2 separate regions of the Homo sapiens genome follow, and region 1 is linked to region 2. The links come from fine-mapping of genetic effects on gene expression. Tissue or cell type: whole blood. Region 2 holds a variant in brackets; the other region holds the start of a gene. All regions are shown on one strand. Distances are from middle to middle.

Evidence for each region. PIP is the estimated chance that this variant, and not a neighbour inherited with it, causes the effect.
Region 1: SUMF1 starts here. The variant in region 2 is fine-mapped to the expression of SUMF1 in whole blood (INTERVAL, PIP 0.95).

The regions. Positions count from the first base shown.
Region 1 is chr3:4,465,709-4,468,391 of GRCh38, reverse strand. It overlaps SUMF1 (sulfatase modifying factor 1), which reads left to right and starts at 1,123. Exons shown (of 9, transcript NM_182760.4): 1 at 1,123-1,416. The coding sequence starts at 1,147. LOC124909340 (a long non-coding RNA gene) reads right to left here and starts at 1,568. Exons shown (of 2, transcript XR_007095789.1): 1 at 884-1,568. RefSeq lists an enhancer at 897-1,076 and a silencer at 1,247-1,426.
Region 2 is chr3:4,359,659-4,362,341 of GRCh38, reverse strand. SUMF1 (sulfatase modifying factor 1) reads left to right here. Exons shown (of 9, transcript NM_182760.4): 9 at 88-1,196. The coding sequence ends at 198. Among named protein-coding and RNA genes, the nearest start is that of SETMAR, 58 kb to the right of the region's middle. The variant T/G (reference allele first, on the strand shown) is at 1,377.

The sequences.
Region 1 (2,683 bases), 110 kb before region 2:
CATTATTACTCCTAAAAGCCTAAAAACAAAATTTACAGCAATTCCTTAATTTTATCAAATATTATAATTTGACTTAGTGGTTAAATTTCCCTGATTATCTCAAAAATTTTGAACTCAGTAGGTTTGAATTAGTATTTAGATAAGGTTCACATATTGCAGCTGGCTGCTATGTTTTTTTTTTTTTTTTTTTTTTCAGATGGAGTCTTGCTCTGTCCCCAGGCTGGAGTGCGGTGGCGCCATCTCGGCTCACTGCAAGCTCCACCTCCCGGATTCATGCCATTCTCCTGCCTCAGCCTCCCGAGTAGCTGGGACTACAGGCGCGTGCCACCACGCCGGGCTAATTTTTTGTATTTTTTAGTAGAGATGGGGTTTCACCGTGTTAGCCAGGATGGTCTCGATCTCCTGACCTCGTGATCCACCCGCCTCGGCCTCCCAAAGTGCTGGGATTACAGGCTTGAGCCACCGCGCCCGGCCTGCTATGTTGTTTTTTAATCTGTAAGTTTCTCCTTCATCTTCTTTTTGTTTTGGTTTTGCATTTTGTTCGATTACGGAACTGTAGAACAGTGGTTCTTAAACTTAAGTGTGGATTAGAATCATCTGGAGAGCTTGTGAAACCCTGGATTGCTGTGTCCAGTCCCCACGGATTCTGATTCCGTATTGTATTTCTCTTTTTTTTTTGAGACGGAGTCTTGCTCTGTCGCCGAGGCTGGAGTGCAGTGGCGGGATCTGGGCTCACTGAAACCTCCGCCTCCCAGGTTCAAACGATTCTCCTGCCTTGGCCTCCCGACTAGCTGGGACTACAAGCGCGCCATTACTGGGTCTTTGTGAGGATTAAATGAGATTTTAAAAAGTGAAGTGCTTAGCATAGTACTCTGGCACTTACCAAATGCCCAGCAAATTTGACTGTTATTTTTCAACCAAGAAATCATAAAGGGGTGCACGGTCTGTGGAAGGCCTTGAGTTTTGTGGAGTTTTGTGTTTTGCTGCGTTTTGACGTTAGCACAGGCAAGCAGCAGCGCCAAAGAAGTACCTGAAGAAAGGTGAAGAGCAACTCTCCTGGTCACTTCGTAAGTCAGCTCAAAATTCTGCCCCTTTAAGGAGGGCTCAGCCACGTGACCAACCGGGTCACATGGCCCGCGGGACAACATGGCTGCGCCCGCACTAGGGCTGGTGTGTGGACGTTGCCCTGAGCTGGGTCTCGTCCTCTTGCTGCTGCTGCTCTCGCTGCTGTGTGGAGCGGCAGGGAGCCAGGAGGCCGGGACCGGTGCGGGCGCGGGGTCCCTTGCGGGTTCTTGCGGCTGCGGCACGCCCCAGCGGCCTGGCGCCCATGGCAGTTCGGCAGCCGCTCACCGATACTCGCGGGAGGCTAACGCTCCGGGCCCCGTACCCGGAGAGCGGCAACTCGCGCACTCAAAGGTGCTCCATCGATTCCTCCGAGGCGGGTGGGGGCTGCTCGGTTCCTGGACGGGGTTGGAGTAGGCAAAGCAAGGCACTAGTAGGAAGGGAAGTAAAGGTTATAACCACACCCCAAATCGAGCACCTGCTGTTCCCGTATGAGGAGTTCCTTCTCCGTGCCTCACCGGAAGACTCCATTTAATTGACCATTAGGGAGTTTGGTTTGAGGGTTATTGTTACTTCTTTACCCCCTATTTCTTTCTCCCTCCAACCTGTTCTCTTAATGAGGATCTCATAATTTTAAGGCAATCAAATTATGGTTTAAATCACCATTTCCTCTCTTATTAACGGAATAAATTAGGATCCTGGGTCTCAGTATCTTCACCAGGGTTGTTGTATACTTATCTGTAGTCTCCTCGAGTACACTCTGCTTGAGGACAAGGGCTTGAATTGTTTATCCTGCTATTCTTAGCACTTTAGCACTTAGGAAGGGCTAAGCAAACTGTAGTTGTTTTATTGCTATTATTTATCTGTCTTGCTTAGCGCCTGTATGTGTTAGGTGCCGGGATATATAAATAACTTACTGGCCGGGCGCGGTGGCTCACATGCCTGTAATCCCAGCACTTTGGGAGGCCGAAGCGCGCGGATCACGAGGTCAGGAGTTCGAGACCAGCCTGGCCAACATGGCGAAACCCCGTCTCTACTAAAAATACAAAAATTAGCCGGGCGTGGTGGCGGGCGCCTGTAATCCCAGCTACTCGGGAGGCTGAGGCAGGAGAATTGCTGGAACCCGGGAGGCGGAGGTTGCAGTGAGCCGAGATCTTGCCACTGCACTCCAGCCTGGGCGACAGGGCGAGACTCCGTCTCGAAAAAAAAAAAGAAAGAAAGAAATAACTGTTACTTCAATCTGTCTGCCCGGTATTTTGCATATTGATGTGTTGTCGAAACAACTTATGGGTCTAAAGGTCAGGTCTTCTGACTCCTAAACTAGTGCTCCTTCTTGTTTACTTAGCAGACACTATCCTTTTCCCATTCCATTTTTCTTTCCTTTGGGTTAATCCTGACCAATATTTAGGACTTAGGTGAGAGGTAACATCCACAGTAGGTTTTACCTGATCTCCTCTTTCTCTCCCCTTCAATATTTCCGTATCCTGCCTCAGTAGTTATGTGTTTATTCTGACATAACAATTATTAAAGATGTTTTTCTGCTGATGTCTCTCCCCAACTGGACTGTGAGGGTGATGGGGTCAGGACCATGATTTAGTCTCTCAGGTGTAGAGTGTAGGAG
Region 2 (2,683 bases):
TACAGCCGGTGCAATATGCATCTGATGGGTTAGAGCCTTCAGCTGAGAGTCCCAGTAGCACTTACCTTGCTCTTTCTCTCTACACAGTCTTATTGTTACAGGTATCGCTGTGCTGCTCGGAGCCAGAACACACCTGATAGCTCTGCTTCGAATCTGGGATTCCGCTGTGCAGCCGACCGCCTGCCCACTATGGACTGACAACCAAGGAAAGTCTTCCCCAGTCCAAGGAGCAGTCGTGTCTGACCTACATTGGGCTTTTCTCAGAACTTTGAACGATCCCATGCAAAGAATTCCCACCCTGAGGTGGGTTACATACCTGCCCAATGGCCAAAGGAACCGCCTTGTGAGACCAAATTGCTGACCTGGGTCAGTGCATGTGCTTTATGGTGTGGTGCATCTTTGGAGATCATCACCATATTTTACTTTTGAGAGTCTTTAAAGAGGAAGGGGAGTGGAGGGAACCCTGAGCTAGGCTTCAGGAGGCCCGCGTCCTACGCAGGCTCTGCCACAGGGGTTAGACCCCAGGTCCGACGCTTGACCTTCCTGGGCCTCAAGTGCCCTCCCCTATCAAATGAAGGGATGGACAGCATGACCTCTGGGTGTCTCTCCAACTCACCAGTTCTAAAAAGGGTATCAGATTCTATTGTGACTTCATAGTGAGAATTTATTATAGATTATTTTTTAGCTATTTTTTCCATGTGTGAACCTTGAGTGATACTAATCATGTAAAGTAAGAGTTCTCTTATGTATTATTTTCGGAAGAGGGGTGTGGTGACTCCTTTATATTCGTACTGCACTTTGTTTTTCCAAGGAAATCAGTGTCTTTTACGTTGTTATGATGAATCCCACATGGGGCCGGTGATGGTATGCTGAAGTTCAGCCGTTGAACACATAGGAATGTCTGTGGGGTGACTCTACTGTGCTTTATCTTTTAACATTAAGTGCCTTTGGTTCAGAGGGGCAGTCATAAGCTCTGTTTCCCCCTCTCCCCAAAGCCTTCAGCGAACGTGAAATGTGCGCTAAACGGGGAAACCTGTTTAATTCTAGATATAGGGAAAAAGGAACGAGGACCTTGAATGAGCTATATTCAGGGTATCCGGTATTTTGTAATAGGGAATAGGAAACCTTGTTGGCTGTGGAATATCCGATGCTTTGAATCATGCACTGTGTTGAATAAACGTATCTGCTAAATCAGGCTTCACCGTCATCAGCTTCTTTTCTCTTTCTCTTCTTTATGTTTTCTTTTAAAGAGAGGACTTTGTGATATGCGTGTTTTATTTGCTAGAAAACGTTCATGTTTGTTAGCTAATGGATAACTTTGATATGTGGGTAATTTGTGGGAATTTTTGTTCCAAAAAGCAAGGCTATTCCACCAG[T/G]AACCCTATCATGACCTTGCTGCTTGTTGCCACAGTAGATAATGCCAAGTCAAAGGCACTGCCTCACTTGTGGTCTTGTAAAACCCAGCATTTGCTTCCCATGCCGGGAAAGCACCTTGTTTTAGAACAATAGCTTTCAACCTAAGGTCCCTGTTATCAAGTTCCCATCCTGATTCCTCAGTCCTGAGAACCCCTAAGCCATTTCTTGCATGCCATTTGAAAGAAATGTTTAAATCAAATAATATTCAAAAGTGTCTAACCAACACTTGAATGCTACTTTTGTGCTTAGCCTCTTAACATGTTAAAACAATTCCCTTGAAAAGCAGTCATGTAGGCCAGGCCCAGTGGCTCACACCTGTAACCCCAGCACTTTGGGAGGCCAAGGTGGGTAGATCACTCAAGGTCAGGAGTTCGAGATTAGCTTGGCCAACATGCCAAAACCCTATTTCTACTAAAAATACAAAAAATAAAATTTAGCCAGGAGTGGTGACACTTGCCTGTAGTCCCAGCTACTCAGGACTGAGCCAGGAGAATTGCTTGAACCTGGAAGGCGGAGGTTGCAGTGAGCCGAGATCGCGCCATTGCATTCCAGCCTGGATAAGAGAACAAGACTTTGTCTCAGGAAAAAAAGAAAAAAAAAAAAAAGTCATGTAGCTGGCACGTTTAGCCACATTTGTGGTTCATTTTGTAGATATCAAATGTTTCTCTACAAACTTCCACCTACTGATGATTAATCCCAGGCAAAAAAAAAAAAAAAAAAGAACAAACATTGGTAGCAAATAATTAATGTAGGAAATAAGAGATTTTATTTTTAAAGTCACCCTACTCCAGTACAGTTTGTTTTTACTTGTTACCTCCCGCCTGCATATATTTTTTACATTGTTATATTTATGGTGTGTCTATTTTGAATTCTTGTCTTGTTAATGTTACATTGCGTAAGTATTTTTGGTGTTTTGGGTGTACTTTTTAGAATTGCATTTCTAGCAGCAGCATAATACTGGAAGGCATTTAAAATGAATTCCTAAGTTGGGGACGGTGGCTCATACCTATAATCCCAGCACTTTGGGAAGTCGAGGCGAGAGGATCGTTTGAGGCCAGGAACTTGAGACCAGCCTGGGCAACTGAGATGGTTTGACTGCGTCCCCACCCAAATCTCATCTTGAATTGTAGTTCCCATAATCCCCAGGTGTTGTGTGAGGGACCTGGTGGGAGTAATTGAATCATGGGGGCAGTAACCCCCATGCTCTTCTTGTGATAGTGAGTGAGTTCTCACTAGTTCTGATGGTTTTACAAGGGGCTTTTCCCCC